2 separate regions of the Homo sapiens genome follow, and region 2 is linked to region 1. The links come from fine-mapping of genetic effects on gene expression. Tissue or cell type: whole blood. Region 1 holds a variant in brackets; the other region holds the start of a gene. All regions are shown on one strand. Distances are from middle to middle.

Evidence for each region. PIP is the estimated chance that this variant, and not a neighbour inherited with it, causes the effect.
Region 2: KAT6A starts here. The variant in region 1 is fine-mapped to the expression of KAT6A in whole blood (INTERVAL, PIP 0.98).

The regions. Positions count from the first base shown.
Region 1 is chr8:41,928,730-41,931,486 of GRCh38, reverse strand. KAT6A (lysine acetyltransferase 6A) reads left to right here. Exons shown (of 17, transcript NM_006766.5): 17 at 1-2,008. Among named protein-coding and RNA genes, the nearest start is that of KAT6A-AS1, 120 kb to the left of the region's middle. RefSeq lists a silencer at 122-416. The variant AATGAG/G (reference allele first, on the strand shown) is at 1,295.
Region 2 is chr8:42,050,889-42,053,388 of GRCh38, reverse strand. It overlaps KAT6A (lysine acetyltransferase 6A), which reads left to right and starts at 1,402. Exons shown (of 17, transcript NM_006766.5): 1 at 1,402-1,488. KAT6A-AS1 (KAT6A antisense RNA 1) reads right to left here and starts at 1,639. Exons shown (of 2, transcript NR_136589.1): 1 at 1,404-1,639. RefSeq lists enhancers at 268-788, 789-1,310 and silencers at 759-918, 1,109-1,738, 1,839-2,308.

The sequences.
Region 1 (2,757 bases):
TATAATTTTTTTCTTCTTTTTTAAAATATTCCCACTCAGCACTCAGAGACACAAAAATACTGTAAGTCTCAATTAACAGCAGAATCTCAGAGAAAAGCTGTTTGCAATCCAAATCCAGCCTTTGGAGGAATAGAGATGGTCAATTAACAATCAAAAAGAGGAGATTAACCTCTTGTTTTTTTACCACCTGGTGAATCAGCCATAACGCACACACACGCCACCCAGCCTCTTGTTTCTAGTATGTACTTTGAAATGCTAACTGAGGGTCTTGATGCTTGAGCCTTTGACTGATAAAACTCAAATAGCAGTCCCCAGTGATTTGCCTCTTAGGTTCTTTCTTAAATTGTTGGTGGATGACTGTACATTTTAGTGATTTGAAAAATAACTGACAAACCATTGAAACAGTTTATTTTATGTTGGAAGAGATGGCGCAGATGTGTGTCAGAAGGGAGATCACGGTGTGAGTTTCGTAGCTATTTAAGTGATACATACCTCTAGTTTTTGTATGTCTTTTGAGATCCTGAGTTCATCCCCTGTGAATCAGAGTGCACAAGCACCTCTCCTGTGAGTGGCTAATGAGAAGAGGGACAGACCGACCACCAGCACAGTAGGGCAGATCTGGACAGCAGAATGTTATAACGCAAGTTCATGTGTTGCTCCCAACTCCATTCTCTTTTCTCTCGTGCAACCAGTTTGCCCATTCTCTTCCTATTACTTGCTCCAGGGATAGGTAAAAAAAAAAAAAAAAAAAAAAAAAATATATATATATATATATACACACACACACACACACACACACACACATATATATATATATATATTCCATCATTAGAAGATGGAAACTATTATACCACTTGGTATGTGCAGTCAAATATCCAAAAGGGGGAAGTACTGCTTAGAGAAATATCTGTAAGCATTAAATTCTCTCCTTTATTTGTACATTTTATATAGATAAATTTTTAAAGTACTAATTAGGCATTAACTTTTTTCAAATGCACAGGTTTGTTGGTTTTTTTAATACACTTTAATTGACTTTCTCAAGCGTGCTAGGTAGAAACGCAGAATTCCACATCTTCCCGCTCTCAGCTCTGAGCATGTGCAAGGCTGTGTAGGACCCAGTTTCTCTGTATATACTATTCCAGTTCCCAGTCATCTATGTAGAAAGTGCACTGTGCTGCCATCGCCCTACATCTTCAGCTGTGTCATTGCTTCCTGGTTGGGGTGGGGACGGGGTGGGTCGGGAGGGAGGTATATTGGGAGGAGGGTGGGTCAAGGCAGAAGGAGAAGCTGTTGA[AATGAG/G]GGCCGTGAAATCAGTTTCTGTTGGTTTGCGGTTGTGTTTGGTTTTGTTTGTTTCTTTATAAAAAATTCAATCGGGCAGCTCCCTTTTCCACAAGCCTCTTTGTGACTGTAGAACTATTGTAGAAAAAAAAAGTTCTTTTCTATATTATAAAAGAAATTATCCAACACAGTAATATTGGTACCTGTCATTTTTTCACTTCTGTTTAAAAAAAATGTATTTTTAGCAAGATAACTTGGGTAATCTTCTAAAAAAGAAATTTAAAAACTCACTGTTAGTGACTTTGATGCCTTTTAAAATAAGAGCTTTTTCATTTCATTCCATCTTTAAAATTTTTTATCTTTGTTGTAGAATATTAAAAACTATTTTAAGAAAGATAAATTCTCTTTAAAGAGATCTCTAGCGTGTGTGAATAGAGCTCCAGATGCCTCTAAAAGCCGCATGTACAAAGGAAGCCACGTCTATCCTGTCTGTTTATATTTGCTTTTCCTGTTTTGTAACCTCTTTGTACTTTGTTCATGGTGACTTGTAAGCTAAGGGGAAGGGGTGCCTAGATGCCTTTGTATCTCTCCATGTCACGCGCTCCTGGGCCAGCCGGCCTCCCTTCCTCTCCTTGTATGTAATACCTTTTTTTCCCCTTTCTAGCAAGTACTTTCAAAAGAACTCTGTACATTTTAACATAAAAAATAAATTATGTTGAGCCATTTTGGATGTCTGTCTTGCATGTGGAATTTTTCTCCCTTCCCAGTATGTCAGAACTCTTCAATTCTTGTTCTACACCCAGAGACCTATAAACATTAGTCTTTTCATTTTCCTCTTTATTATAGGAGTACAAGTCCATGGCCTTTGCTTTGAAATTCCAGTTTTCATTTATGTCTGTGTTTAAATGCCAACAATATGGATGGGTTTTCCATTTCCAAGGAACATGGCACGGTAACCCTACTTTGGATTTTGTAGGGGCATTCATATAAAAACCTCCTAAAGGGATTTTAATTCCCGTCCCCCCCACTCCCCTAAAAAAAAGCAATTGCAATAACAAGTAGCTCCTAGACTTGTGATAAATGGGAGGAGTAATTTTTATAGATCTTATTTTATAATGTAACAGTATTTTTAAAAGCGTTGTGGGTTTTTTTTCATTTCATTTTACCTAATTGGGTAATCTAGGAAGATTCGTCATTCTCCTTTTGCCAGAATTCAAGGCCCTGAATGCTGATTACTTTTTGGTGGTCTCTTGGGTTGTGTTTGCCTCTCATCATTTAGAATTGTGGACAGGAGGCAGAGTCCAGAAAATTTGATTTCACTTTGGGAAATTGGCCTTAGTTTCTGGTGGTAGGCAGTGAGGCAGGTTCAAGTTTTAGCGGCCTCCACACTTCCTCTGCCCCTTCACACTGAGGAATTGAGGAACTGTACATGATACTACCTATAGCAGACATTTGTTCTGAATTTCATGCTGTTTAAAG
Region 2 (2,500 bases), 120 kb before region 1:
GATTAAACATTTAGTGTCTTTTTCATGTCTACTGTCTTTCTAGTGAATGCAGAAAAAAAAAAAATGCATGACTTGGCCAGGTGCAGTGTCTCAGGCCTGTAATCCCAGCACTTTGGGAGGCCGAAGAGGGCGGATCACTTGAAGTCAGGAGTTCGAGACCAGCGGCCTGGCCAACATAGTGACACCCCGTCTCTACTAAAAATACAAAAATAAGCCAGGCGTGGTGGCGGGCGCCTGCAGTCCCAGCTACTCAGGAGGATGAGGTAGGAGAATCGCTTGAACCCAGGAGACGGAGGTTGCAGTGAGCCAAGATCGCACCACTTGCACTCCAGCCTGGGCAACAGAGCGACACTGTCTCAAAAAAAAAAAAAAAAGTATGACTCAGTCTCTGCATCAAAGAGTTTAAAGTAGATGAAAGGCAAGACAAAGAAACGTCCATACAGCCAGTAGTGGACAGGCAGGCCATGAAGAACCGCCTGCTCGTGGTTCCAACGCCCTAAGTATGGACAAGAGTTCCGCACAGGGCAAGAAGGGAAGACCGGCTTTGGAATAAGACAAATCTCAGTCCCAGGCTCAGGTGCGCGCCACATACTAGCTGTGTGACCTTGTCCAAGTCACACGACCCAGGTCTGTGGAGTCTCCCATAAAATGGCTCTAGTGAGCTCCAAGAACCCTCTCAGCTGCTGGGGGAGGGAAGAAATGAAGTCACTGCTGAAAGGGGTTAAGACGGGTGCTTCTGGTTCCACCCTCTCCCCAACTCTTCCCACCGACACAGGAGAGCCGTCGGGGGCTGAGGCGAGCTGCCAGGGGTGAGGACGGGAAGCCGCCTCCTCTCCGCCCCCCAGGCCCCGCCCTCGGGCTCCGGAAAGTCGCTGTGCAGGCAAATGAGTGGGGAGGGAGGGCTCACTAACTGTAAACAGACGCCGCCGAGAGTTCCCATCCTGCGTGGCTGCCGGATTTCCGTGCCACACTGAAGCCACCCCACCCAGACTCCTGCCCTCAGTTTCCCCAGCGGTGGCATGGGGTGCACCAGCTCCTCCTCTCCCGGGTCGCCGTCTGACTTAAACGCGTGAGACGGGAGAGGAGGAACCCCCGCTCCCCAGCCTCCAGCCCCACCAAGTCCTCCTCCTCCCCTGGCTTTGGCCTTTTGTACCGGCCCCACGTGACCCCGCCGGCCGGCTCTTCCCTGCTGCCCCGCCCCGCCCTCCGGCCTTTCCCGGCTCTCGGCCCAGCTCTTCCCGCTCTCGGCCGCCCCCCACCCGCGCTGCCGGGCCTCCGCCTCCCCTCGCCGCCCGCCCAGGCTCTTCCAGCTCCCTCCCCCAGGCCGCCGTTCCCTCGCGACGCTCCCCTCCCCCCGCGGCTGTTCCGCCGCCTTGCCTCCCCTCCCCCCGGCTGGAGCTCACTGTCTCCAAGATGGCGGCCGTGTCAGTTTGGGGCATCTCCGCGGTCCGGCCCGGGGCCCCGGGATCTCGGCTGTCCTTCCTCCCGGTAAGTAGCCGAGGGGCCGTTCCCGGCCGCCCCCGGCCGCCCAGCCCGAGGCCGAGCCGCTCCAGGGCCCACTCCGCTGCCTCGCGGGGTCGGCGGGCCGCTGCAGGCCCCGCCGCGGCCTGCGCCGCCTCCCGCTGCTCTGCGCCAGGCCTCGGGCTGGGGCGCCGTGGCCGCCCCCTCGCGCCCGCCCGCTCGCTCGCTCGCTTGCTCGCTTGTTCGGCGCCCGGCTGCCCCGGCCCGCGGCCCGCGCGCCGCCGCCCGGCCCCGCGCTCGCGGGCCCCGCGCCCCCGATCCCGCCGGCCGGGCCCGCCCTGGGGGAGCCGGCGGGTGGGCGGGCGGCGAGCGGCCCAGGCCGCGGAGCCTCGGGCTGGCGGAGCCGGCGAGCCCGCTCTCCCTCGGGGCGCGCCCACCCGCCCGCCGCGCGCGTGCCGGCTGTGCCGGGCCGGGCCGCTTCTCCCCGCGCTCGCGGGCGCTCGGGTTCGGGCTCGGGCTCGGGTTCCGGCTCCGGCTTTGGCTCCGGCCGGGGGCGCGGGGATCCGAGCGGGGCTGAGGCGGCGAGCGGGGCTGACAGGCCGGCGGGTGTTGTGGTGCGAGGCGCAGCACGTGTGGTGTTGTGTCTGCCGGGCTGTCAGCCCAGCCGCCGAGGGGAGGCCGGGCGCCTGTCAACCTCGCGGCTTGGCCCGGTGCGCGACTGTCAGGCTCCCAGCAACCCGCGCCGCCCTCGAGCCGGCCCCCAGAGCTTAGGGTGCGGAGCTGGGCCGGGGCTATGCACCGCTCTGAACTCCTTCACGTGATTTCATTGTTAACTTGTGCTCGGGGTCTGTTTCCATCGCGTGGAAACGGTGCAGCGCCCCGTCGGCGAGCTGCCGGGCTGTGCAGATCCAAGTTTTTAAAGTTTCTCGCTCTTTGAAAAGAGAGCGCGAAGACGTGTTTAGGGGTGGGGAATGGGGACGGGAAGGACTGTCGGAAGCGAGTTGCGCTCGCTCTAGCCGCTCGTGTACTTTCCGGGAGT